Regions from separate parts of the Homo sapiens genome. Here region 1 is linked to region 2. The links come from fine-mapping of genetic effects on gene expression. A gene starts in region 2. The other region holds a variant in brackets. All regions are shown on one strand. Distances are between the middles of the regions.

Region 1 (10,713 bases), 65 kb after region 2:
AAAAAAAAAAAAAAAAAAAGGTGCTGCATTAAAGCCTTACAACTCAATGGTCAGTAGTTAACAAGCAGTTCAAAATAGCTTTTTAATCCATGTCAAAAAATTAAAAGAACTTTTTTTTAATATGGAAGGGATACAACTATGTACTTAGGATAATACCTCCTTACATGCTCTGCTCGCCCTTGTTCCTTTCTCCAGTGCCCTCAAATGGAGCTCTGTGGTTGGTCCCTGAACACAGAAAGGATATTTTCTCAGCTATTAAAAATTATGAGGGAGTTGTAAGTGCAGTTCTTTCGCTAGTAAGATAACTGGAATCAATGGATTATATTTTAGCAGATTTTATAGTATCTTTCCACAATGTATTCTATATAAATGCCTGCACAATGAAATGTGTAATTTCATAAAGCATAATTGAAAAGTAATTTCTGAAAACCACATGTTTAGGTTGAAGTGGCATTTTCCTTGGCATGCATTGTCCTAGGGAATGATGTGTTACAGAAAGACTTACATGAAAATGAAGGATTTGAATATGCTGATGTCCTTTATCTTCTTCACTCAACAGAAAAGGTAATACCTTTACAAAATATTGAGGTTCATTTTGAAAAAAATGGTTTTTATACCACATCTTCAAATTATCAAGTCTTCTTCATGGCAATATTCAATGTATTGTTTAAGAAAAGACATGTAAAAGATCTCTTTGTAGGTCATTAGTTTGTAATGATGTAATAATACAGCTCCATATTTTTCTGAGTTGTCCCACTTCATCGTTGAAATGCAGTAATTTTAATGTTTGGTGATGAGTCAAAAAACAAATCTCTTATGTCCCAAATCAAACCTTTACAATAATTTTATGCCCTTTCAGCCCTCAGTCATTCACTTATCCAATATGCTAAAGGGGTGCTTCTCAAACTATTTATGATGAAGAAATAGCTTTTTCCCAGCAATCTATTATGGAAGGATAATTTTTTTTAACTTTAAAAATTTTGAAATAATCTTAGACTTTCCAAAATTCTGGTATATCCTTCATCTAGTTTTCCCAAATGTCAACTAGAACATTAACATTGATACAATACTATTAACTAATTTGCACGCCTTATTTAAATTTTGCCAGTTTTCTCAGCAATGTCCCTTTTTTGTTTTTTTTATTTAATTTAAAAAATTATTTTTATTTTTTTCAATGTCTACTTTTGTTCCAGAATCTAATCGGGGTCTCACATTACATCTAAATGTCTTGTCTCTTTAGCCTCCAGTTTGTGAAGCTCAGCCCTTCTTTGTTTTTCATGATTTCATGTCTTTCATGATTTTGACATTTTTGATGAATTCAGGCCAGTTATTTTATAGAATATCCCTCAATTTGACCTTGATGTTTTCCCCTAATTAAATTGAAGTTACACCTTTTGGCAAGAATATCACAGAAGTGATGTGGTCTTCTTCACTCACCTTCCCAGTACATCATAGCATGAGGTATATAACGTTGATGTATTTTACTGGTAATCTTAATTTTGATTACTCGGTTAAAATGGGGTCTGCCATAGTTCTTCGCTGTTTTTCCTTTTGTAGTTAATAAGTATCTTAAGGTGAGACACTTTGAGATTATGCAAATATTTTGTCTTGCATCACACTTTTGCTCACCAATCTTAGCATCCATTGATGCAACAATAATAAATGTAACATTTGCCTAAGGGCAATTAAAAAAATTCCCTTCTTCCTTCTACGTTTATTAGTTGGTATTCAACTATAAAGAAGATTTGTTTCTTTTCAATGTTTATTCTCAGTTTTGTTATCCCACTGTTAATGATTTTGTGGACTGTCACTGGTCCACGGGCCACACTTTCAACAGCACTACCCTAAGGAAATGAGAGCTATTTTCTACAGGGCATTTCACAACCAGGAAGAAAATTGCCAGCGACGTTTCTCTCAGTTCTGTAAGGTTTTAGAGGGATCAAGGAGGGTCAGGAGGTGGGTGGGAATTAAGTCATGTTATTTTTTTAATACAAAATTTTATTCTACTGTGGTACACAAAAGAGAAGTGCTGCTATAAAAATATGGGAAATATTTTGGGAGGTCGAGGTGGGCAGATCGCTTGAGATCAGGAGTTCGAGACCAGCCTTGCCAATATGGTGAAACCCCATCTCTACTAAAGAGATAAAAATTGGCCGGGCGTGGTGGCACATGCCTGTAGTCCTAGCTACTTGGGAGGCTGAGGCAGGAAAATCACTTGAACCTGGGAGGTGAAGATTGCAGTGAGCCGAGATTGCATCACTGCACTCCAGCCTGGGTGACAGAGCTAGACTCCATCTCAAAAAAGAGAATATATATATATATATATTTACAGTAGAGTAAAAAAAAATATATATATAAAATATATATATATGTGGAAACTAATAGGGTGAGGAGACTAAATGAATGTCTACCTGACTCTCTAAGCCACCTTTTGCCCCTCTACTCTGTTCCTTCTAGCTTTTACTCCCATTACCTTACTCCTCATGTGCACCCTTCTTCTCCCTTTTGTTACACATTCCACTCTCAAGTATTCTGCCTTCCTTCCCAGTTTGTTACCACCTGCTTCACTCTCTGGACCCTGCATTTGGCTTATAATAGATTTATTCTTGTGCATCAGTTCTACAAATGGTAGGGAATCTTAGAGAACTAGAAGGTTTAACCAAAGGATTTATCCGGCCTTGGCTGAAATTTTTAATTCTAACACTCATCACAAGGCAAGTTAAAAGTCCTCCAGGGTTTCTTGTACTATATTTTGCCTCAAACTACCTGCCCTGCAGAGGCACATTAGTGCTCTTAGGGCTTTAGAGACAGTACTGAACAACTATCCTTCATTAAACCTATAGTGGGAGACTTCAGATTACACAGGTGTGTTGTAGAAGTTAGAGGGGAGGGAGGGATGTTCAGCAACATTAAATATGTCACTGAATGAATAGCTATCTTATGGATAATGACAGGAATGCAATAAAAATTAAGTCAGGAACCCAGGTTCTTGTAACTCCTAGCCACATTGATACTGTCTACATGGAGATGCAATAGGTTATGTGTTGTTTTTAAATTATAATTTAACTATTTTCATGCTACCAAACTAGAATAATATATGAAATGGACCATTGAGATTGATTTTCACAAGCCACATAAAATTAGTTGCATTAATTTAGTTACTGTTATTCTACTCTTTTTAATTAACTCAAATATGTGGGCTAATTAATTATGAATATACTTTTGAAGAGAGGTTAGTGAGCATAATTAACAGGCACTCTTTTCCCATTTATAAATCAGTGGGTATAAAGTAACAATAAGTAACCAGTGGGTATAACCACCCTGGTAGATAGGTAAATGAAAATATATATGAAGTAAAGAGTTTAAGACAGTTGACATTGGGGAAGAAAAGTATGGAAACACATGTCTTTCCTCAAGCATTAATTTTTAGCCTTCTGAACTGGGAATAGCCAACTTGGTTCTTGTCCTGTATCTGATACTACCTGGCATGGTGGGAGCAGTCAAACTATGGGATTCATTTTGAAACATTAATAGCCACTTTATAATCTAAACTATTTACTGTAGACTTCCACAGTGATACCGCAGGAGTGAACCCTACATGGAAAAGAAATGGAAATCAGTCAAGTCTTAGCATATTTCTCTCACTTCGCTCTATCTGACCTTGATACACAAAGCATGCCCCTTTGGTTCATTTCCCATTGCCACTCTTTCCTACTTGGCTCTAGGTTCTATTTTGCTGTCTGTTAATCCACGCTTTGACTATGAATGAGACCTAGTTTCTCAAGCCTTTGACTGTACCTAATACCTTTCTTTTTGCCTATTTAGGTGACTGGGTTTT[G/T]TGTGTGTGTGTGTGTGTGTGTGTGTGTGTGTGTGTATGTGATTTTTATTATGGAAAATTTCAAATATATATAAAATGACAGGGTAGCATAATGAACCTAAATGTTCCCACCCAGCTTCAGCAGTCATCATCTCATGGCCAATCTTATTTCATCTATACATCTACTCATTTCTACTAAATTATTTTTGATGCAAATTTCAAGCATCATATAATTTTATCTATAAATATTTCAGTATGTACATGCAGCATTTTAATATTATGATTAACAGTGGCAGAAGAAAATTCAGGGCCAGGTGTGGTGGTTCATGTCTGTAATCCCAGCACTTTGGGAGGCCAAGGCGAGCAGACACCTTGAGCTCAGGAGTTCAAGACCAGCCTGGGCAACATAGCAAAACCCTGTCTCTACAAAAAATACAGAAAATTAGCCAGGTGTGGTGGCACACGCCTTTGGTCTTAGCTACTTGGGAGGCTGAAGTGGGAGCATTGCTTGAGCCTGGGAGGTGGAAATTGCAGTGAGCCAAGATCACGCCACTGCACTCTAGCCTGGGTGACAGAGGGAGACTTTGTCTCAAAAAAAAAAAGAAAAAGAAAAAAAAAGAAAAGAAAATTCACCAAGATGAATGAGTTCTTTCTGTTGTAATACATTGTTCAAATAACATACTAATAATACAATATATTGAATTATTTTTAATATTAAAAATAAGATTTAGTAATAAGATTTTATCTTTTGAATCTTTCTGGAAGGTCTGCCATACTTATATATCTCTGGCAAGCAGACTAATTCTACAGAAGAAACTAGCTTTTGCTGTTTGCCCAGCCTCAGAATGTTAAAATGTGATTCTTCAGAATACATTATTTTTCTCCTATTCTTCCTTAAAATATAGTACAATGGAATTTTACAAATGAATTTAAGAGATTGATATGGAATACCCAACAATGTATGGAATGCAATAGATAACATGTTATATACAAGGGTAGTTTTGATTTATCAACTCTACTTTGAAATGTTGAAAGTTACAACATTCTAGAGTAACTATTATCTCTTTTCCCTAGTAATGTCATATTTTACTCCCAGTGATAAGAATGCAATATATTTTAATGAGCAAGAACTTAAAGTCTATTATGTTGAGTAACATGATAAATGAAGTTCACCATAATGCCTGTTTCTCCTATTTTTAGGATATTTGCTTAAGAGCAGGCTATGCATTAACACTTTTTGCCTTCAATAATCGCTTTCAACAATACTTAATATTGGAAAGTGGAATAATGACCATATCTATTTTTGAACGTTTTCTTGAATCAACAGTTGAAACTGAGAAGGCAATGGCAGCATTTCAGGTATAAAATTGAGATTAACACCTCAAATTAATAAATATGTCATTTTGTGAAAACTTGAAAATTACAACAATTTGGAGGCCCAGAAAAACGTTTACTTATTTGTAAAAACTTAGTACTTTGCACATAAGCCCCTTCTACCTCATAAAAACTCCATTATCTATGAGGATTTCTTCATTAATACAGAATTTTACAAGTTATAAGACACTTGCTTATGCCTTTATACCTCATCTGATGTTTATAACAAGCCTGTAAGGTTGACAATCAGGTAGTATTATTTTCATCACCCCCATATTAAAAGTAAATAGGTAGAAAAACATGTTAGCATCCAAGACAGGTTTTCTAACTGCAAATCTTTAGTTGATCACACTGATCCTTCAACCTAGTAACAACTGTATGTATCTGGGAAGTCTTATTCTCTCTCTTCATTTTCTATCCTGTGCCCTTTAAGAGAAGTAATTTCTATGAACCCATATTGAAAGGGTGCAAAAGTTGCAAACATTGTAGGAAGAATAATAGTACCCCCTATGATCACTGCTATGACCAGACAGGGACAAATACTCTAACTCTCCCCACCACCACATGCTGCTTCTATTGAATCCTCTAAACACTCCCTTTAAGAAGTATCAAAAGAATTAAAAAAAAAACATAAAAAATGACAAACGTGTAATTAGAGAAGCTGAGTAGAAAATGTTCAAAGACTCTCTGCTTCTTTTCTGTTTTCAGATTGTTGTACTGGCTAAAGTCATTAGAGATATGGACCATATTACTTTGTCTGCAAGAGGTGTTACTATTTTAGTTGATAGTCTGTATTCAGTTCAGACTTCTACTATTGTCTTGACAGGTAAGAAATGACTAGAAGTTAATTTTAGCCACATAAAACTATTTTCAAAAACAGTTTATTGTAATCTGAATAATAATAAAATAATACGCCTGATACACTGCCACAAGTTTAAAGAACGAACTTATGTTTATATCTACATGGAACTCCACAGCAAGTCTACACGAAACAATGGGTGTCTACTCTGTACCCCAAACAGAAGCTGAGTAACTCTGAATACAGACTTTTTGCTTTCCTAATTACTTTTTCAAACCCTTAACTTTTTTTTCCAAGATATAAATGAGAATTCACCTATGACCTACAAACAGCAAAATAAAAAAACTGATTTATAATAGTGGTGGCAGATTTACACAGATGTACCTCTGTCTGGTTTCCTTTTGTCCAGTTGTGCACATTTTGCTAACACTGAAAAGTTCTTTACATCGCTGTGCAACAAAGCAAAGCAAGATGGTCCCATAGCGTTCTCAACACATTTATTGCTATTGTATAACTGTGTCTACTGCAGACCTAACCCAACAGCTCACACATAATAGGTGATCAGTAATATTTAATTGACTTGTTATGCCACTCTTAAAGTAACATAAGGCAGGGTCAGAATGAGTAATATGCAGTGACTACTACCAATATAAACAAATAAGTATTTGTTTTTTAATTAAAATGTATCACTAAAGGAAACTTTACTTGATGCCATAGAATTACATGTTTATGAAGTATATGTGCATGGCAAGGAAGGAAAAATGAAGCAATGAAAACTTTCTGATGGAAACTAGCTAGAAAAAAAGTTTAAAGAAGTTATTAAATATGTTTTAATCTAAATAACATTATTAATTCAATGTTATAGTAATTCTGTGACTCTGAAAAACAACTGTAGTGGGTTTAGACTCCACAGTTTTTTTTTTTTTTGAGATGGAGTCTCACTCTATTGCCAGGCTGGAGTGCAGTGGTGCGATCTTAGCTCACTGTAACCTCCGCCTCCCAGGTTCAAGCGATTCTCCTGCCTCAGCCTCCCGAGTAGCTGGGACTACAAGCATGCACCACCAAGGCCAGCTAGTTTTTGTATTTTTAGTAGAGATGGGGTTTCACCATGTTGGCCAGGATGGTCTCGATCTCTTGACCTCATGATCCGCCCGCCTCGGCCTCTCAAAGTGCTGGGATTACAGGTATGAGCCACCACACCTGGCCTCCACAAACTCTTATAGGAAAGAAATGCCATATTACATTGGCTTTCAAATATTAAATTAATTCCTCCAGGATGAGGAGAAATGAATCTCAGAAATTACTGGACTTTCTCTGCACTCCACAACCAGTCATATGCATGTCCAGGGTATCTCAGGCAAAGCTTGATATTCAGGCCTCAGGTATAGTGTAAAATAACTGATGTGCTTGGTGTCAAGTTGACATGGTTTCCAGAAGATGCTCCAAAGGCACAGAAGTTTTTAGGAAACTGATTTCTGTTACCAAGAATTCAGTTTTCCTATTTATACCACTTAGCTATTCTCTACTCGGAGTTCCTCCTTCTACTCCTTTGAGAACTATAAACTTTAGTTCTCTTTCTTAGCTGCTCCCTTGGTCTGTTTCCATTTCTAACTTCCCATCTTTAAAGGGTCTTTTTAACTTTAAATAGAGCTTACCTTTAGACAATTTTTGCTTTAGATGATACAACCAATTTTCCCCATTCGGAGGCAATAAACACAAGGAATTTCTTGGCTTATAATAGAGGCCAGACAAAAATATAAGGAGAACAAAAACTCACGTCATATCTCAATAAAGTATCCACATACTCCACACAGAAATATGAAAATACATTTTTATCTTCAAACAAATATAAATGAAATAATATTCAGTTGCTAGCTGCACATTTAATTATTGGGACACTTTATTATTTTAAATCTGAAAACATTTACTTTTATGTAAAAACTTCAGTGATTTTTAAACCTCAATAAGCAATACATTGATTGATTTTAAAGTATTAATAAGGCTTAACTCAAAGCCATTTCAACCGCAAAAAGGACATATTAATTTTTTTTTTTTGAGACGGAGTTTCGCTCTTGTTGCCCAGGCTGTAGTGCAATGGCACGATCTCTGCTCACTGCAACCTCTGCCTCCCAGGTACAAGCGATTCTCCTGCCTCAGCCTCCCGAGTAGCTGGGATTACAGGCATGTACCACCACGCCCGGCTAATTTTTGTATTTTTAGTAGAGATGGGGTTTCTCCATGTTGGTCAGGCTGGTCACGAACTCCCGAAGTCAGGTGATCTGCCCACCTCGGTCTCCCAAAGGGCTGGAATTACAGGTGTGGGCCACCACGCCCGGCCTAAATTTTCTTATGATAATTAAATCATTATGTTCATAGTTATTTTTAAAACCCTAAAAACTTCAAAACAAAATATATTCTGAAGATATGGGAGAAAGAAAACCTCTAATTTTCAAATTTTTCACCCTTACATAAACCTATTTAATTTACACTATTTGTGACAGAAAACCAAACTGTAATTTTGGGGAGTTTATTCTATATTTACATATGCATGCTTTTTCTCAGTGCTGCTTCATTGACAGAGATGTCTTGTGACACAAACTTTTTTCAGTGCTATGTGCAATTAATGAAAGTATTATAAGTTTATATCAATTAAATAACACAAGCATTTTTCTTGTTTAATTTATAGGGAATTTAATAGCAAGCCTGGCTCATTCTAGAGCTGGTATCCCAGAAGCATTTACCACATTAGGAACAATCCAACGGCTCTGCTATCATTTGTACTCGGGAATAGAAGAGGTAAAAACAAGCAAAAACTAATTCTAAAATTAAATATGCTAAAAATATAATTTACCTCTCCCTCTGTGGACTAATTTTTCCACTGATTGACTGTGTTATAGATATAATATAATTCTTATTACTAACTCAAAATTACATGACTGTGTTATATATATAATATAGTTCTTGTTACTAACTCAAAATTACATGACTTTTCTAATACTAATTAGTCATACATATCTGCCATCCACAATTTTAATTCCTATAAAAATATACATTTGTTTTAACCCTAAGACTTAAAATTAGGATTTTAATCACAAAAGCAGTATAAAACGACTACAATTAAAGATTTAAAAAGAACTACCTGTTCAAATTAGTTTCTGATTTAAAAAACAAAAACAAAACCCTACAAAATAAGTCATCTTAATCCTGGAATTAAGAGTCAATCTATAAGTACGTTGATGACAAAGAAACTTATAATTGTTTACTAAGTATCTAATGAAAACCGGTGACTCTGATCTAAGTTATTTCTATGATTTGAAATGAATGAAAATGGAATTCATAGGATAGCTTTCCTTATGTGTCAAGCAGGGTTAGATGTAAGGGTGTGTGAAAGAGGCCGTGCTGGTCACAGCAGTGGCTTGCCTCTGAGTGTTCCCCTACTCTCTTCCACTAAGGTCTAAAGCAGTGTTACTCCACCTTTAGGGTATATCAGAATCACCTGGAGGGCCTGTTATATTGCTTGGCCCCATTCCTAGAGTTTCTGAGCCAATACATTTGAGGTGGGCCCTAGAATTTGCATTTCGAACAAGTTCCCAGCAGCTGAACTACAGGTCCAGGGTTCAAGGTTTAGAAGACATATGAGCATACAGAGCAACCGGATGCCAACATAAAGACCAATATGTTCATTCTATGAAACTTTTTATGCTACTATCATATTCCCTACAACTGGCCAGGAACATACTTTAATTAATCATATGACCAATCTATGGGTCATAGACAGAGGGTATTTTCTTCAAAGAACTATTTTTTCTAGAGTCCTGTGGCCTGACACTTGTGCTTCTTTCTGTTTTTGCCAGTGGAAAAGTGAGTTGCTCTTGTAACGTCTGAATGTTAAAAAAAAATTTTTTTAAAGTAATAAATAAATAAATAAGTTGCTTTCTCTAAGATTTCTGTTACCAAGAGTTCAGCTTTCCTATGTGTACCACTTAGCTATTCTCCAAAGTGTCTGTTCCTACTCCTTTGAGAATGATAAACAAAATAATTAAATAAGAGTTTCTAGGGATGGAACCCAGGCATAATTGTCAAAGTTATATGGGTGATGCTAATGCATTGTCAGGGTTGCATCCACTACCTTAGTTCAAACTCAAGTTCTTTCTTTGGTGGCACATTAGAATTACCTGACACACACACACACACACATTAGAATTACCTGACACACACACACACACACACACACACACTAGAATTACCTGACACACACACACACACACACACACACACACACACACACACACACACACACACACACACACACACACACACACACACCCCTGAAAGGATTCTGATTTAGTTGGTGGGCTTTTTTTTTTTTAAACACTCCAGGTGGTTCTAAAATGCAGTTAAGACTGAGAACAACCACTAGAAATCAATGGCAGTTGACAGCTCTCTGTAAAAATATGGCAGTTAAGCTTCCGTCTATACACTGCCATTTGTTTGCATACATATTTGCTTACACTTGCTCCCTCCCTTACAGAGACTTTCCTATGAAATAGCTAATTAGAACATTAAGATATTTTAAGAACAAAGCCCACTGGTTAAGAAAGAATTGTTTCTTCATTTAGGTTCGTGCAGCTTGTTCCTCTGCTCTTGGCTACTTAACATACAATGCAAATGCTTTCCGCATCCTATTAAAAGAATGCAGGAATAAACCTAATCAGTTCATTCG
Region 2 (16,172 bases):
TATATTATATCTATATAGCAGTAGGTATAATTTGGTCACCATAGCTTGCTTTGGCATTTTGGTGTTCTTGTAAAAGAACACTTACTGATAAGAAAAAGTATTCTCAATATATTGCTCATTGATAAAAGCATAAATCTGCAGGTACAGTAAGAACCTTTTTTGTTAAAATGGAGAGAAAATAGTTTCATTTCAGTAGTAGCAATTTCTGGTAGTTGGGCAGTGGGTGACTTTTATTTGTCTTTTTGCTTGTCTGTATTTGCTAAAGTATTGTACTGAATAGATTTTCAAGAATTAGTGATAATAGGGTTTAAGGATTTTAATATCTACTTTTTAGATCAAAATTTGATATTAGCCTAAATTATGTTTTCCAGAAAGTATATAGGCAACAACAGAACAGCAATATATTCTTTCTTGCAGACCGAACAGAAATGCTGTCTGAGAGCAAGAGTAAGTTTTTTCTTTTTTGGGGTTTTTGGGGGGTGCCTAAATTATACTCATCTGAGTGTTAAAATATATATCTAAAGATTAATGCAGCAGTTTGATTTTCTTCAAATTAGGCTTCCGAAGATGAGTCAACAGTTATATATATATGTGTATATATATATATATATATATATATATATATATATATATATATATATATTATAAATGTTTTAGAAAGCAATAGTTATTAACATGTGCTTTAGAATTTTAAACAGGTCTAAGTATGACAAACCATTACCACTTTCTACCTTTGTGACTTTGGGTGAAATACTTTAAGCCTCCAAGGTATTGTGGGATCTAAATAAGATGCTATGTTAAAAGTGCTTAGCCAAGTGCTTGGGCCAAAATCAGCACTCGGCAAAACAGAAGCTATTTTTCTAAAAGATAAACATTCTTTATTAGTAGCCTGTTGTTAATTATCATTGGTACTGGCACAGTGTGTGTGTTTATATGGTTTGATTTTGGTAAACAGCTTGTGTTGCCCTCTGAATTGCTAGGTAAAAGTCCAAGAATTTTTATGTTATTTAATATTTATTCTCCTTCCCTGCAACAGATATATTGGATGAACTGAAAAAAGAATACCAAGAAATAGAAAACTTAGACAAGACCAAAATCAAGAAATAGTCAACCTGATTTCACATAACAATGTGTGGCATTTGTTGTTCTGTAAACTTTTCTGCTGAGCATTTCAGTCAAGATTTAAAAGAGGACTTACTATATAATCTTAAACAGCGGGGACCCAATAGTAGTAAACAATTGTTAAAGTCTGATGTTAACTACCAGTGTTTATTTTCTGCTCACGTCCTACACTTGAGGGGTGTTTTGACTACCCAGCCTGTGGAAGATGAAAGAGGCAATGTGTTTCTATGGAATGGAGAAATTTTTAGTGGAATAAAGGTTGAAGCTGAAGAGAATGACACTCAAATTTTGTTTAATTATCTTTCCTCCTGTAAGAATGAATCTGAGATTTTGTCACTCTTCTCAGAAGTACAAGGTCCCTGGTCATTTATATATTATCAAGCATCTAGTCATTATTTATGGTTTGGTAGGGATTTTTTTGGTCGCCGTAGCTTGCTTTGGCATTTTAGTAATTTGGGCAAGAGTTTCTGCCTCTCTTCAGTTGGCACCCAAACATCTGGATTGGCAAATCAGTGGCAAGAAGTTCCAGCATCTGGACTTTTCAGAATTGATCTTAAGTCTACTGTCATTTCCGGATGCATTATTTTACAACTGTATCCTTGGAAATATATTTCTAGGGAGAATATTATTGAAGAAAATGTTAATAGCCTGAGTCAAATTTCAGCAGACTTACCAGCATTTGTATCAGTGGTAGCAAATGAAGCCAAACTGTATCTTGAAAAACCTGTTGTTCCTTTAAATATGATGTTGCCACAAGCTGCATTGGAGACTCATTGCAGTAATATTTCCAATGTGCCACCTACAAGAGAGATACTTCAAGTCTTTCTTACTGATGTACACATGAAGGAAGTAATTCAGCAGTTCATTGATGTCCTGAGTGTAGCAGTCAAGAAACGTGTCTTGTGTTTACCTAGGGATGAAAACCTGACAGCAAATGAAGTTTTGAAAACGTGTGATAGGAAAGCAAATGTTGCAATCCTGTTTTCTGGGGGCATTGATTCCATGGTTATTGCAACCCTTGCTGACCGTCATATTCCTTTAGATGAACCAATTGATCTTCTTAATGTAGCTTTCATAGCTGAAGAAAAGACCATGCCAACTACCTTTAACAGAGAAGGGAATAAACAGAAAAATAAATGTGAAATACCTTCAGAAGAATTCTCTAAAGATGTTGCTGCTGCTGCTGCTGACAGTCCTAATAAACATGTCAGTGTACCAGATCGAATCACAGGAAGGGCGGGACTAAAGGAACTACAAGCTGTTAGCCCTTCCCGAATTTGGAATTTTGTTGAAATTAATGTTTCTATGGAAGAACTGCAGAAATTAAGAAGAACTCGAATATGTCACTTAATTCGGCCATTGGATACAGTTTTGGATGATAGCATTGGCTGTGCAGTCTGGTTTGCTTCTAGAGGAATTGGTTGGTTAGTGGCCCAGGAAGGAGTGAAATCCTATCAGAGCAATGCAAAGGTATGACACAGTGTTTCTTCTCCTGAGAATTCCTGAGACCTATTTTTGACCCTTAAAGCTTTTAGCATTTTGATTGTAAGAATATAGCATATTTTAGGTGCATTTATCTTATTTTCTTTACTGTGTAGTTGATAACATTTTTATACGGATTTCTTTAAACCTCATAGGTAGTTCTCACTGGAATTGGTGCAGATGAGCAACTTGCAGGTTATTCTCGTCATCGTGTCCGCTTTCAGTCGCATGGGCTGGAAGGATTGAATAAGGAAATAATGATGGAACTGGGTCGAATTTCTTCTAGAAATCTTGGTCGTGATGACAGAGTTATTGGTGATCATGGAAAAGAAGCAAGGTAATTCTAATCATTTGAGTGTTCTTACGGTATTTTTATAAAAACAGCAGAGTGTAAATGGAGACTTTAAAGTTTGTTTTCTCTTTGGAGACTGTTCACATGAATAAGAGCAGCAATAATAGCTTGGCTTTGTATTATAAACAAAGTCAGAAACAGAGCTGGGAAGAGCCAGGAGAGCATTTATTTTCTAGAACTCATTCTCTAAGAAATGTCTTTTCAGTAATTTTCAAAGGTAACATAATGACAGGATTGTTTTTAAGACTATAGTGAAAAATACTGTCAAAGTAGGCCAGGCATGGTGGCTCACACCTGTCTTCCTAGCACTTTGGGAGGCCAAGGCGGGTGGATCACCTGAGGACAGGAGTTCAAGACCAGCCTGGTAAACATGATGAAACCCCACTTCTACTAAAAATACAAAAAAATTAGCTGATCATGGTGCTGCATGCCTGTAGTTCCAGCTACTCGGGAGGCTGAGAATGGCTGAACCCAGGAGGTGGAGGTTGCAGTGAGCCCAGATCGCGCCACCGCACTCCAGCCTGGGAGACAGTGCGAGACTCTGTTTCCACAAAAAAACAGAGTAAAACTGAGATAGTGAAATACTAAGAGAAGGTATTTAGAGGGTTTTGTTCAGCTTTTAATGTTTGCTTTCCTCCCAGTAAGGGCATAAGCCCCACCTGCAAGCCTTCTCCAGTGTTATAGAAACTGGCTTTGTCTCTATAGACATTTCTGTATGTACAGATCCATGCTGATTTGAAGGTAGTCCTTACACTGGATATTCCTCTGCCACGTTTTTTGAACACAATTTAGTTACATATTGCAGATTACCTAAAACCTTCAAAGAAACCAAGGCACTTTCATGTATGTATTCTTGCTTTTCAGGTTTATTTTTACCTATATCATATTTCTGAAGGTAGTGAACAAGTACAGTATTTGAATAAAACTTTCTAAAACATTAAGTAAGGATAAAGGAAGATGTGACATTTAGTTATAAAGAGCAAAAATTCATTCAAGTAGGCTAATTGATTAAGTGGTAGTTTATTACAAGGGTGCAAGCATCCAAGAATAGGAAGTCCAAGTAAGCTTCATGAGAATTAAACATACTACACTTTCTCTCCCTCTCTCTCTCTCTCTCTTTGACTTCATTGTTTCTTGTCTCTACTTCAGTCTTTTCCTCTTTCCACTGACTTGTAGTTGCCTTTACACAGTTGTCTTTCTTAAGTTTCTGGTCCTAGCCCATGTAAAAGTTTAGCTACTATGTCATTATTCTGTCATAATTTTCAAGATTTCACTATAAACTGATAACTAATGCCATAATAAAGTCCGTAAACTGTTAAACTGTTTTCTCTTTGAAGGACATGAGAGAGGTAGAAATTCAGTCTGTTATTTCAGCTAGGTCATAGAGAAAGGAATTTGTCTAGTAAAAGCCCTTACTTATGAAAGTATTATATTATGCTCAAATAAAAATGCATATGAAGAATGTTTAAAGCAGCTAATACAGAATTGTGATATAACAAATATAGTGGCTAGATCTAAATAATTTATTACGTATCTTGACATACATATTAACAGTAGTGTGTTGATTTGATTCTCTAGTTAAATTTGCTTTTGCAACTCATTCATTTTTATGTAATATTCCAGATAACAAATGTCTTTGTCCTTTCCAATCTCTTAACCTAGAATAGGATGTAATAAAACGGAAACACTAGTGTAACTGTATTGCATTTTGAGATGTGGGATGGTGGGTGTTAAAGTATTTTAAACAGAAAAAGAACATAATTTTCTAGAAATTGGGGAAGGAAAAGGGCAGAAAGTTTTTTTTTAATCGAATATTTTGTTTCTAGGTCATCCCAGAATTTAGGGGAAAAAAATCTAATATTTTGTTCTGTTACAGTAATTTATCACCATTTAATTGGTTTAAGTATAATTAAACAATTTTGAGTAACAAAATTTTACCATAAGTGTTTTGCAGGTTCAGGACTGTGGAGCCCTTCTATATTGGTTCCATATCCCTAAAGTGTCATTTCTTTAGACCTGATAAAGATCAGACACAGATTGAATAGTTAGTTAAGATCATGCTCGTAGGCTAGGTGCGGTGGCTCACTCCTGTATTCCCAGCACTTTGGGAGGCCAAAGCAGGTGGGTCACTTGAGTTCAGGAGTCCGAGACCAGCCTGGGCAATGTGGCGAAATCTCATCTCTACCAACAAATACAAAGATTAGCTGGGTGCGGTAGTGCTCACCTAGGCAAAAAAAAAAAAAAAAAATCATGTTTGTTTTCAAGGCCTCCACAAAGATACCTTGTAAAACAATTTGAAATTATTTCTGGACACAATAAACCTAATTTATTTATTGAGATTTAGACTATTTTGTAGTATATGTATTAAAATTAGTCATGTTGTGAAACAATTTGGTTAAATTTTAGCTATAAAACTGTGTATAAATCAAAGCAGGTTGATTTTATTTTTACATAGTGGTTATATTATCTGTCTATTTTAGATTTCCTTTCCTGGATGAAAATGTTGTCTCCTTTCTAAATTCTCTGCCGATTTGGGAAAAAGCAAACTTGACTTTACCCCGAGGAATTGGTGAAAAATTACTTTTACGCCTTGCAGCTGTGGAACTTGGTCTTACAGCCTCTGCTCTTCTGCCCAAACGGGCCATGCAGTTTGGATCAAGAATTGCAAAAATGGAAAAAATTAATGAAAAGGCATCTGATAAATGTGGACGGCTCCAAATCATGTCCTTAGAAAATCTTTCTATTGAAAAGGAGACTAAATTGTAATGTGATTCACAATGTAACAATATAAAAATAAGTTTTTATATAATTATATAAAAGTAAGATACTCTGCTGCTTTACTATTGTATAACATAGTAGTTTTAAAGTTCATTTGGTTGAATTTTCATTTTTTCCTGTCACAGAGCTTCTAAAACCATGGAATTTCCTTAGTGATAGGGAATATCTTTTGTTGTTCATAATAAGCCCCTTTTGATCACACCTGAGTTTATGCTAATGCGTTGACTTAGGGTGAGGTCTCTAAATAGCCTTTAACACCTGCAGCTTGGGAGGCCAAGGCAGAGGGATCTCTTGAGTCCAGGAGTTTGAGAACAGCCTGGGCAACATGATGAAACCTCATCTCTACCAAAAAAAAAAAAAAAGTACAGAAAATTAGCTGGGCATGGAAGCATGTGCCTCCCTACTCAAGAGTCTGAGGTGGGAGGATCACTTGAGCCCAGGAAGTTGAAGCTGCAGTGAGGCTAGGATCATACCACTGCACTCCAGCCTGGGCGACAGTGAGACCCTGTCTCTAAAAATAAAAATAAAAACAAAAATAAAAATCAAGTGATTAGAAGAGTTGGAATTTCATCCCCACCCACCAACCTCTGGGAGGGAGAGTGGTGCTGAAAATTAAGGTCTATTAAACTTTATAAAAACTCTTGAACAAGATTTGATGAGCCTCTGGTTTGCTGAACATGTGGAGGTGCTGGGAGTGTGGTATGCCCAGAGAGGACAAGGAAGCTCCCTCTCATCTTAATTTTTTTTAATACTTTGCCTTATGCATCTCTTCAATTTGGCTGTGCCTGAGATGTATCCTATATAATAAGCCAGTAAACATAAGTATTTCTATGAGTGCTGTGAGCCATTCTAGCAAATTATCGAACCTGAATAGGGGGTCATGAAAACCCCCAGTTTATGTAGCTGGTCAATCAGAAGTACCAGAGATCCAGACTTGAAATTGCCATCTAAAGCAGAGACACCTTATGGCACTGAGCCCTTAAATGGAAGGATCTGACACTCACTCCAGGTAGATAGAGGCAGGATTAAACTGTAGGATACCCAGCTGGTATTCAGAGAGCTGGAGAATTGCTTGGTAATTCTCCACACATCTGGTGGAAAAAATCCACACATCTGGTGTCAGAAGTGTTGTGTGAGAGTGAAGAGAAACAGTTTGTTTTCCCAGACTCACTCTCTTTGATCACTCCATCCAGAAATGATTCAGTTCCCTCTCTTCAGGGACCATGGTTTAGACAGGGTCCTGTTTCATGGATAAAAGAACTACAGGTTTAAAGAAGCTAAACAATTTGCTTGAGGTTCATCCTCCTGAACAGTACTTGTTACTTCTATTACATCTTTTTAGGCAGCTCATTTTCCCACCCCAGTAACTTTTAAAGACTACAGTTGACCCCTGAACAACACATTTGAACTGTGCAGTTCCACTTATATGTGGATTTTCTGCCTCTGCCACCCCGAGACAGCCCCTTCTCCTCCTCAGCCTACTCAACCTGAAGACAAGAATAATTACGTCTTCCTCTACTTACTATGTCTTGCCTCTCATCCACAGTCACTCTCTCCACCTTTTTGTCTATTTACTCCAACCTGACATCCACCCACATTACTCAACTGTTAACTGCCATACCAGTGTCACTGTGAAATCTGTCCATTAGGATCGACACCATTTCTGGATCTGGCCACCCTTTGATTCTTTAATCACAGTAGCAAATAAATTTTAGGATCCGGACAAACAGGTCAGTAACCTGGCAAAGGCTTTCACATGCCCCGAATTTATTCCCTGGAAGATGCAATGTTCAACCAAAATTTAGATACTGCCTACATAGCTTTCATCCCTCAATCTGAAAGCAGACAACTTCAAGTGTCTGTGTGGGCCTGAGCACTAAATTGACATTGCTTATATTGGGAGTAGATGAACTTAAGAGGTTTGCCCCACGGCCTAGAATTGAATATTATAACACCAATACAGTTTAATACTGAAAATAGCTATAACTTACATAATGCTATATTCCAGGTGCTACTCTACTCTATGAGATTTAAATGTATTAATCAGTCAAACTTTTATAAGGAATTTCCAGGTCATCTGCTCCACCAGAATACTGAGAGAGACAGAGAGAGGATACACATGCATGTGTGTGAACCCCAAGAGGGCCTGGGCATTTACAACCTTCTGCTATTCAATCCCATTAGCTCTGGGATGGAGTTCTGTGTTGATCCTTTAAAAAATGAGGCATCTCTTTCCGAAGATTTGAGACACATGGAACAAACCATTTGGCTACCCAGGGGGAAACAATCCTTGAAGTAGGAGAATGTACATATATGGTTCATATTTCTTAAGTGCAAACATGCAAATCTTTGTAAAAAAAAAAGCCCTGGAATAGTCCTCATAAATTTATTAATATTTATTTCCATAGTAGCTAAAATAATGACATGGTTACTGGAAGAGAAATTCTGCCCCAAACAGTCACCAAGAACTTCCAAGCTGCTGCATTCAGTGGAAGTTTGTTCTCATCTCCCCTGACCGAGCAGCAGCATCCGATAAAGTTGGCCATTCCTTTTTTTTTTTCCACACACTTCTTTGGCTTCTGTGACCAATTTTGGTTTTCCTCCTGCCTTCTTGGCTGTTCTTTTTGTCTTCTTTGCTGACTTCACTCTCTCTACCTGACGTTTAAATGTTAAATTTCTCAGGTCTCTAATCCTTGGTTCTCAACTCCTCATTCTGCACGCTCTCCCTTGGTGATTTCAACCCCACTCCTGGCTTCAATTACTATAAATCTGCCAAAATTTATACATCTAACCCCTACTGCCATTCTTAGCCCAGAACTGTTTATCTAAAGCATATCTCACATCTCAATTTCTCTCACAGGTACTTCAAGGTCAATTAGTACATAACTGAACTCTTAATCTTGCCCTGATATCCTGTTGCTCCTGACAGAAATGTGGTTCTGACTTGGACACAACCTTCTTTTTCAACATATCCCCAATCTGTCACCAACAGGCAACCTCATTATTTTTCAAATCTGTCCACAGTCCCTGAGCCCCACCTCCACTGCCACTACTGTAGGCTAATCCTTTGGGATGAAATTCAAAATCATTACTCAGCAGCCTGCATGATCTGTCCATCGCGCACCTCAGCAGCTCGGTTTGTGCCCACATCTCTCTTGTTCTCTAAGCAGGGTTTTGCGGTTTCTCAACCATTTCAACTTTGTTCTCACTTCAATTCTTTCTCTCCTGCTGTTCCCTGTTCCTGAAAAGCTACTTGTCCAGTCCTTTGCTTGGGTAGCTCTTTTCCATCTTCTAGGCTCGGAGGGGAAAAGGGCACTTCCTTAGGCAGCCTTTCCTAGCCCTGGGCTAGGTTAGCTTTCATTCGAGTGCTGTCATTCCATCTAATATTGGCACACTGTTAAATATAGCTGTGAGATGATCTGTTCAACTGTAAGCTCCTTGGGGTTTCGTGTCTGCCCTGTTTTCTAGGGTTTCCAGCTTGTAGCTGGGTGCCTGACTCATAATAGGTGTTCCATAAATGCTTGTTGAATGAAAGAATGATGATGGAGGTGGTATTCCAACTCGGGACTGCCTCAACGCCCGGCGCTGTCTCCTCTGCTACTCTGTTTCGGTGTTTTAGCAGAGGCAGATAGTGAGGGCGGCACAGTGCCCACGGCATGCCGCTGGACTAAGCGCTAAGCGGGCTTGGGATGATGCGCACGCGGGGGGTCTGAGCCAGCCAAGGGGCCGGGCGCCGCCTGGGGGCGCTGCGGCTGCTGCGGGACGCACCAGGCCTAGTCGCCCGCAGGCTCCGCCCGAGGAGCAGCCCAGCCACCCCAGGGCCCGGAGGACCAACCGCTTCGACCCGCGCCCGGGCGGCGGCAGTGTTGGCCGGCGAGGCGAGGAGGGCCGGGCCGCCACGGTGGGGCGAAAAGCCCTGAAAGTTCCTCTCAGTTCCTTCCGGTGCGCCTCCCGCTCGCCCTTGCGGAGGCCCTGAGGGCGGATTCAAGGCCCCGCGAGAAGCCATCTGAGGCGGCGACGACTGTTCTCAGCCCCACGGGAACGCCGCGGACGCAGCGTCCCTCTCCCGGACAAGAAAACAGCCATTCTAGAGTAGGTTCCTCCCCTTTCCTTGTTTTTTCCCCTTTCCCGTGCCCATGGCTGACGCGAGCTGCTTTTGGACGTGGGTCCCGGGCTTGACTGGACAGACGTGGGTTCTGTTTCTGAAAGGCGTAAAACCTCAGACTTGTCCTGCAACCTCCTGGTCTCCGTTTTTGCCTCTATAAAGTGGGCATAACAAGGTCTGACTCACTGACCTGGGGTCTCAGGTGTGGCGCCCAAACCAGCACTATCAGCATTTCCTGTAACTTTACTAAAACGCATATTTTCTGGCCCCACTACAGCTCATTGAATCAGAAACTCAGTGGTGGGATTCAGCGATTTGTATTTGAACAAGCCCCAGGTGATTTTGATACAAGCTAAATTTTGAGAACCACTATATAATAGAGACCAATCAGATGAAATAAATCAAACCATTATATAGTAAAGAACCTGGCTCAATAAATAGTAGTTGTGGTTATTATTATTTCAGGAATAGACAGGCATTCATTGGCACAGAAATTGAAGGTTAAGCAAATGCTTCTTTCCTTTTCTTTTTCTTTTTTTTTTCTTTTTTTGAAACAGTGTTTTTCACACTTGTTGCCCAGGCCACCGCAACCTCCGCCTCCTGGGTTCAGCCTCCTGTCTCAAGCCCCGCGAGTAGCTGAGATTACAGGCATGTACGACCACGTTTGGCTAATTTTGTATTTTTAGTAGAGACGGAGTTTCTCCATGTTTGTCAGGCTGTTCTCGAACTCCTGACATCAGTTGATCTGCCCGACTTGGCCTCCCAAAGTGCTGGGATTACACGCATGAGCCACTGCGCCCCACCCTTTTCTTTTCTTTCATGCAGGTCAGTATAGTCTTGCTTTAAAAAACTGAAAACAAAATAAATATCCATATGATTTGGATATTTATCCCCTCCAAATCTCATGTTAAAATAGATTCCCCAATGTTGGAGGTAGGGCTTGGTGCGAGGTGTTTGGATTATGGGGGTGGATCCCTCATGAATGGCTTGGTGCTTTCCTGGCAGAGTGAACTCTACCTCTGAGCTCATGAAAGATCTGGTTGTTTAAGAGTAGACACCTCCCCTTTCTCTCTATTGTTCCGTCTCTTACCATGTGACACACTGGCTCCCCTTCCCCTTCCGCCATGATTGTAAGCTTGGTCTCACAAGAAGCTGAGCAGATGCTGGTGCCATGCTTGTACAGCCTGCAGAATTGTGAGCCAAATAAACCTCTTTTCTTTATAAATTATGCAGTCTCAGGTATTCCTTTATAGCAACACAAACAGACTAACACGAACATATACAAAAGAATGCCTCTCCAACAACAAAATAGGTATGTAACAGTAGCTTCTCACAGATAAACTTAACGTTTCTTTTTGACATACATCTTCTTGTCTTTTGAATTCTTTGAAAAGCAGAACATGGTTAATGATAAAGGTTTTATAATTTTAATTATTTTAATTCAAATTTCAGTTTTCATATACTGCAGTTATTTTTAATTTGAAAACTATAATGGTTGACCATGAAAAATTAATCTTATGTAGGTGAAAGGTACAGATTTATTTCTAGACAAATCCAGTTTCATTGGCATGTCAGATTTTATTGATAATCTTTTCCTTCTTATTCATTGCAGAAGCTTCAAAAAGGACACACTAGATTTAATTAGAAATGTTAAGATTGCCCAAAAAAGGATTACCTAGATTTGAGCAAGTTCAGGATGAAGACACCTACCTGGAAAATTTAGCAATACAAAGAAATGCATCTGCTTTTTTTGAAAAATATGATCGGAGTGAAATACAAGAGTTACTAACTACTGCACTAGTTAGCTGGTTGTCTGCCAAAGAGGATGTGCGCTCTCAAGTAGACCTCCCATGTGGAATTATGAGTCAAATGAATAACGTAGGCTTCTCCACTGCAATCCTACTGACTCCCGTGGACCCTACTGCCCTCTTAGACTATAGAGAGGTCCATCAAATGATAAGAGAGTTGGCTATTGGAATTTATTGCCTAAATCAAATCCCTTCCATCAGTTTAGAAGCTAATTATGATCAGAGTTCTTCTTGTCAATTACCTCCAGCTTATTATGATACCAGAATTGGGCAAATTCTGATCAATATTGACTACATGCTGAAAGCACTATGGCATGGAATATATATGCCCAAAGAAAAACGAGCTAGATTCTCTGAATTGTGGCGTGCCATCATGGACATTGATCCTGATGGAAAACCTCAAACAAATAAAGACATTTTTTCAGAGTTTAGTTCAGCAGGTAAGAGAATTTAACACTTCTTAAATTTTTTTTTTTTTTTTTTGGAACAGAGTCTTACTACGTCACCCAGGGTGGTCACGAACCCCTGAGCTCAAGCCATTCACCCACCTAGGCCTCCCAAAGTGCTAGGATTACAGGCATGAGCCGCTGCACCTGGCCACTTCTTAATTATTTTTATTCAATGCCATTTTTAAAATTTTTAAATTTTATTTCGATAGTTTTTGGGGGAACAGGTGGTTTTTGGTTACATGGCTAAGTTCTTTAGTGGTGATTTCTGAGATTTTGGTGCACCCATCACCTGAGCAGTGTACACTGTACCCCATGTGTAGTCTTTTATCCCTCATTTTCTTCCTACCTTTCCTCTAGAATCCCCAAAGTCCATTATATCATTCTTATGCCTTTGCGTCCTCATAGCTTAGCTCCCACTTATAAGGGAGAACATAAAATATTTGGCTTGCCATTCCTGAGTTACTTCACTTAGAATAATGGTCTCCAACCCCATCCATGTTTCTGTGAATGCCATTATTTAATTCATTTTTATGGCTGAGTAGTATTTCATGGTATATATATTTTCTTTCTTTCTTTTTTTTTTTTTCTTTTTTGGAGATGGGGTCTCCCTGTGTTGAACAGGCTGGCCTCGAACCCCTGGCCTCATATGATCATCCCATCTTGACTTCCTAGAGTGCTAGGATTACAGACATGTGCCACTGCACCTGGCCACCACGTATTCTTTATCTACTCATTGGTTGATGGGCCTTTAGACTGGTTCCATGTTTTTGCAATTGTGAATTGTGCTGCTATAAACATGCATGTGCAAGTGTCTTTTTCATATAGTGACTTCTTTTCCTCTGGGTAGATACCTGGTAGTGGGATTGCTGGATCAAATGGTAGTTCTACATTTAGTTCTTTAAAGAATCTCTATACTGTTTTCCATAGTGGTTGTGCTAGTTTACATTACAATCCCACCAGCAGTGTAAGTATTCCCTTTTCACCACATCCATGCCGACATGTATTATTTTTTTATTTTTAAATTATGGCCATTCTTGCGGGAGTAAGATGGTATCTCAGTGTGGTTTGATTTGCATTTCTCTGATAATTAGTGATGTTGAGCATTTTTCATATGTTTGTTGGCCTTTTGTATATCTTCATTTGAAAATTGTCTATTCATGGCTTTTGCCCACTTTTTGATGGGATTGTTTGTTTTTTTCTTGCTAATTTGTTTGAGTTCCTGGTAGATTCCGGATATTAGTCCTTTGTTGGAAGCATAATTTGCAAATATTTTCTCCTACTCTGTGGGTTGTCTGTTTACTGATTGTTTCTTTTGCTGTTTAGAAGCTTTTTAGTTTAATTAGGTCACATCTATTTATGTTTGTTTTTGTTGCATTTGCTTTTGGGTTCTTGGTCATGAACTGTTTGCCTAAGCCAATGTCTAGAAGGGTTTGTCCGAGTTATCTTCTACAATTTTTATGGTTTCTGGTCTTAGATTTAGTTCTCGATCCATCTCGAGTTGATTTTTATATAAGGTGAGAGATGAGGATCCAGTTTCATGTGGCTTGCCAATTATCCCAGCACCATTTGTTGAATAAGGGTGCCCTTTCCCCACTTTACATTTGTGTTTGCTTTGTCAAAGATCAGTTGCCCATAAGTACTTGGTTTTATTTCCGCGTTCTCTATTCTGTTCCATTGGTCTCTGTGCCTATTTTTATACCAGTACCATGCTGTTTTGTTAACTATAGCCTTGTAGTATAGTTTGAAGTCAGATAATGTGATGCCTCCAGATTTGTTCTTTTTGCTTAGTCTTGCTTTAGCTATGTGGGCTCATTTTGGTTCTATATGACATTTAAGATTATTTTTTCTAGTTCTGTGAGGAATGATGATAGTATTTCTATGAGAATTGCATTGAATCTGTAGATTGCTTTTGGCAGTATGGTCATTTTCACAATATTGATTCTACCCATCCATGAGCATGGGATGTGTTTTCATTTGTTTGTGTCATCAATGATTTCTTTCAGCAGTGTTTTGTAGTTTTCCTTGTAAAAATTATTCACCTCCTTGATTAGGTATATTCCTAAGTATTTTATTTTATGTTATGTTATTTTATTTAACTTTATTTAATTTTGTTTTTTGCAGCTGTTGTAAAAGGGATTGAGTTCTTGATTTGAGTCTCATCTTGTTTGTTGTTGGTGTATAGCAGTGCTACTGATTTGTGTTCATTGATTTTGTATGCTGAAACTTTACTAAATTCCTTTATGGCATCTAAGAGGTTTTTAGATGAATCCTTAGGGTTTTCTAGGCATATGATCTTATCATTGGCAAAAAGCCACAGTTTGACTTCCTCTTTACCAAATTGGATGTCTGTTATTTATTTCTCTTGTCTGATTCCTCTGGCTAGGACTTCCAGTACTATGTTGAATAGAAGTGGTGAGAGTGGGTATCCTTGTCTTGTTCCAGTTCTTAGGGGAAGTGCTTTCAGTGTTTTCCTGTTCAGTATAATGTTGGCTGTGGGTTTGTTATAGAGGACTTTTATTACCTTAAGGTATGTCCCTTCTATGGCCATTTCGTTGAGGGTTTTAATCATAAAGCAATGCTGGATTTTGTCAAATGCTTTTTCTGCATCTATTGAGATGATTTTTGTTTTTGATTCTGTCTGTATGATGTATCACATATATTGACTTGCATATGTTAAACCATCCCTTCATCCCTGGCACGAAACCCACTTGATCATGGCGTATTATCTTTCTGATATGCTGTCAGATTCCGTTAGTATTTTCTTGAGGATTTTTGCATCCATGTTCATCATGGATATTGGTCTGTAGTTTTCTTTTTTTGTTATGTCCTTTCCTGGTTTGGATATTAGGGTGATACTGGCTTCATAGAATAATGTAGGGAGAATTCCCTCTTTATCTTTTGGAATAGTTTCAGTAAGACTGATACCAGTTCTTCTTTGAATGTCTGATAGAATGCAGCTGTGAATCCATCTGGTCCTGGACTTTTTTGTTGTTGGCAATTTTTTATTGTTTCAAGCTCTCTACTTGTTATTGGTCTGTTCAGAGTTTCTGTTTCTTCCTATTTAATCTAGGAGGGTTGTATATTTCCAGGAATTTATCCATCTCCTCTAGATTTTCTAGTTTGTGCACATAAAGGTGTTTATAGTAACCTTGAATGATCTTTTGTATTTTGTGGTATCGGTTATAATGACTCCTGTTTCATTTCTAGTTGAGCTTATTTGGATCTTCTCTCTCTTTTCTTGGTTAATCTAGTTAATGGTGAATCAATTTTATCTTTTCAAAAAACCAGCTTTTTGTTTCATTTATCTTTCACATTGTTTTCTTCTTTCAATTTCATTTAGTTCTGCTCTAATCTTTGTTATTTCTTTTCTTCTGCTTGGTTTGGGTTTGGTTTGTTCCTGTTTCTCTAGTTCCTTGAGGTGTGACCTTAGATTGTCTATTTGTGTTCTTTCAGACTTTTTAATGTAGGCATTTACTGCTATGAACTTTCCTCTTAGCTCCACTTTTGCTGTAATCCCAGAGGTTTTGATATCACTATTATCGTTTGGTTCAAAGATTTTTAAATTTCCATCTTGATTTCATTGTTGACCCAAAGATCATTCTGGAGCAGATTATTTCATTTCCGTGTGTTTATATAGTTTTGCGGGTTCCTTTTGGAGTTAATTTCCAGTTTATTCCACTGTGGTCTGAGAGGATACTTGATATAATTTTGATTTTCTTAAATTAATTGAGACTTGTTTTGTGACCTATCATATGATCTATCTTGGAGAATGTTAAGCCATTTTTTAAATTTAAAGGTAATTTATCTGGATCAAGGTGATGCCAAGAGCTTTGTGAAGATCTGAGGTCCACGGAGGTTAAGGATCAGCAAGAGTGCTTGGTAGTTTCCAACAGCGGTAGAGCCTTGACATTCTGACGAAATTGTGTTTACTTTTGTTTCCCTTTTTACAAATTTACCTGAGGCTCTCATTTGAGAGGACGTGGGACTGATGAGCCATCATTCTGAATGGGCATATGCCAAACTGGTAAAGAAACAACAAGCTCTTTTTAGATCCAGATATCTAGATGGAAACTTTC

Alleles and levels. Alleles are on the strand shown, and positions count from the first base shown. SD is a standard deviation of normalised expression in the study named.
For the expression in monocytes of the gene that starts at base 9,666 in region 2, G is the high allele of the variant in region 1 and T is the other (large effect, 1.4 SD a copy in BLUEPRINT).

The links. PIP is the estimated chance that this variant, and not a neighbour inherited with it, causes the effect.
Region 1: its variant is fine-mapped to the expression of ANKAR in monocytes (BLUEPRINT, PIP 0.95).

What each region holds. Positions count from the first base shown.
Region 1 is chr2:189,732,666-189,743,378 of GRCh38, forward strand. It overlaps ANKAR (ankyrin and armadillo repeat containing), which reads left to right. Exons shown (of 23, transcript NM_001378068.1): 17 at 442-564; 18 at 5,018-5,176; 19 at 5,900-6,017; 20 at 8,677-8,786; 21 at 10,610-10,713. Among named protein-coding and RNA genes, the nearest start is that of OSGEPL1-AS1, 25 kb to the right of the region's middle. The variant G/T (reference allele first, on the strand shown) is at 3,839.
Region 2 is chr2:189,665,005-189,681,176 of GRCh38, forward strand. It overlaps ANKAR (ankyrin and armadillo repeat containing), which reads left to right and starts at 9,666. Exons shown (of 23, transcript NM_001378068.1): 1 at 9,666-9,826; 2 at 11,452-12,087. The coding sequence starts at 11,487. It overlaps ASNSD1 (asparagine synthetase domain containing 1), which reads left to right. Exons shown (of 6, transcript NM_019048.4): 3 at 372-447; 4 at 1,037-2,592; 5 at 2,760-2,941; 6 at 5,437-5,827. The coding sequence starts at 1,129. The coding sequence ends at 5,722. LOC105373793 (a long non-coding RNA gene) reads right to left here and starts at 9,281. Exons shown (of 2, transcript XR_923692.3): 1 at 8,827-9,281; 2 at 8,116-8,389. It overlaps ASDURF (ASNSD1 upstream open reading frame), which reads left to right. Exons shown (of 4, transcript NM_001353493.2): 3 at 372-447; 4 at 1,037-1,397. The coding sequence ends at 1,107. RefSeq lists a silencer at 9,322-9,741 and an enhancer at 9,792-10,051.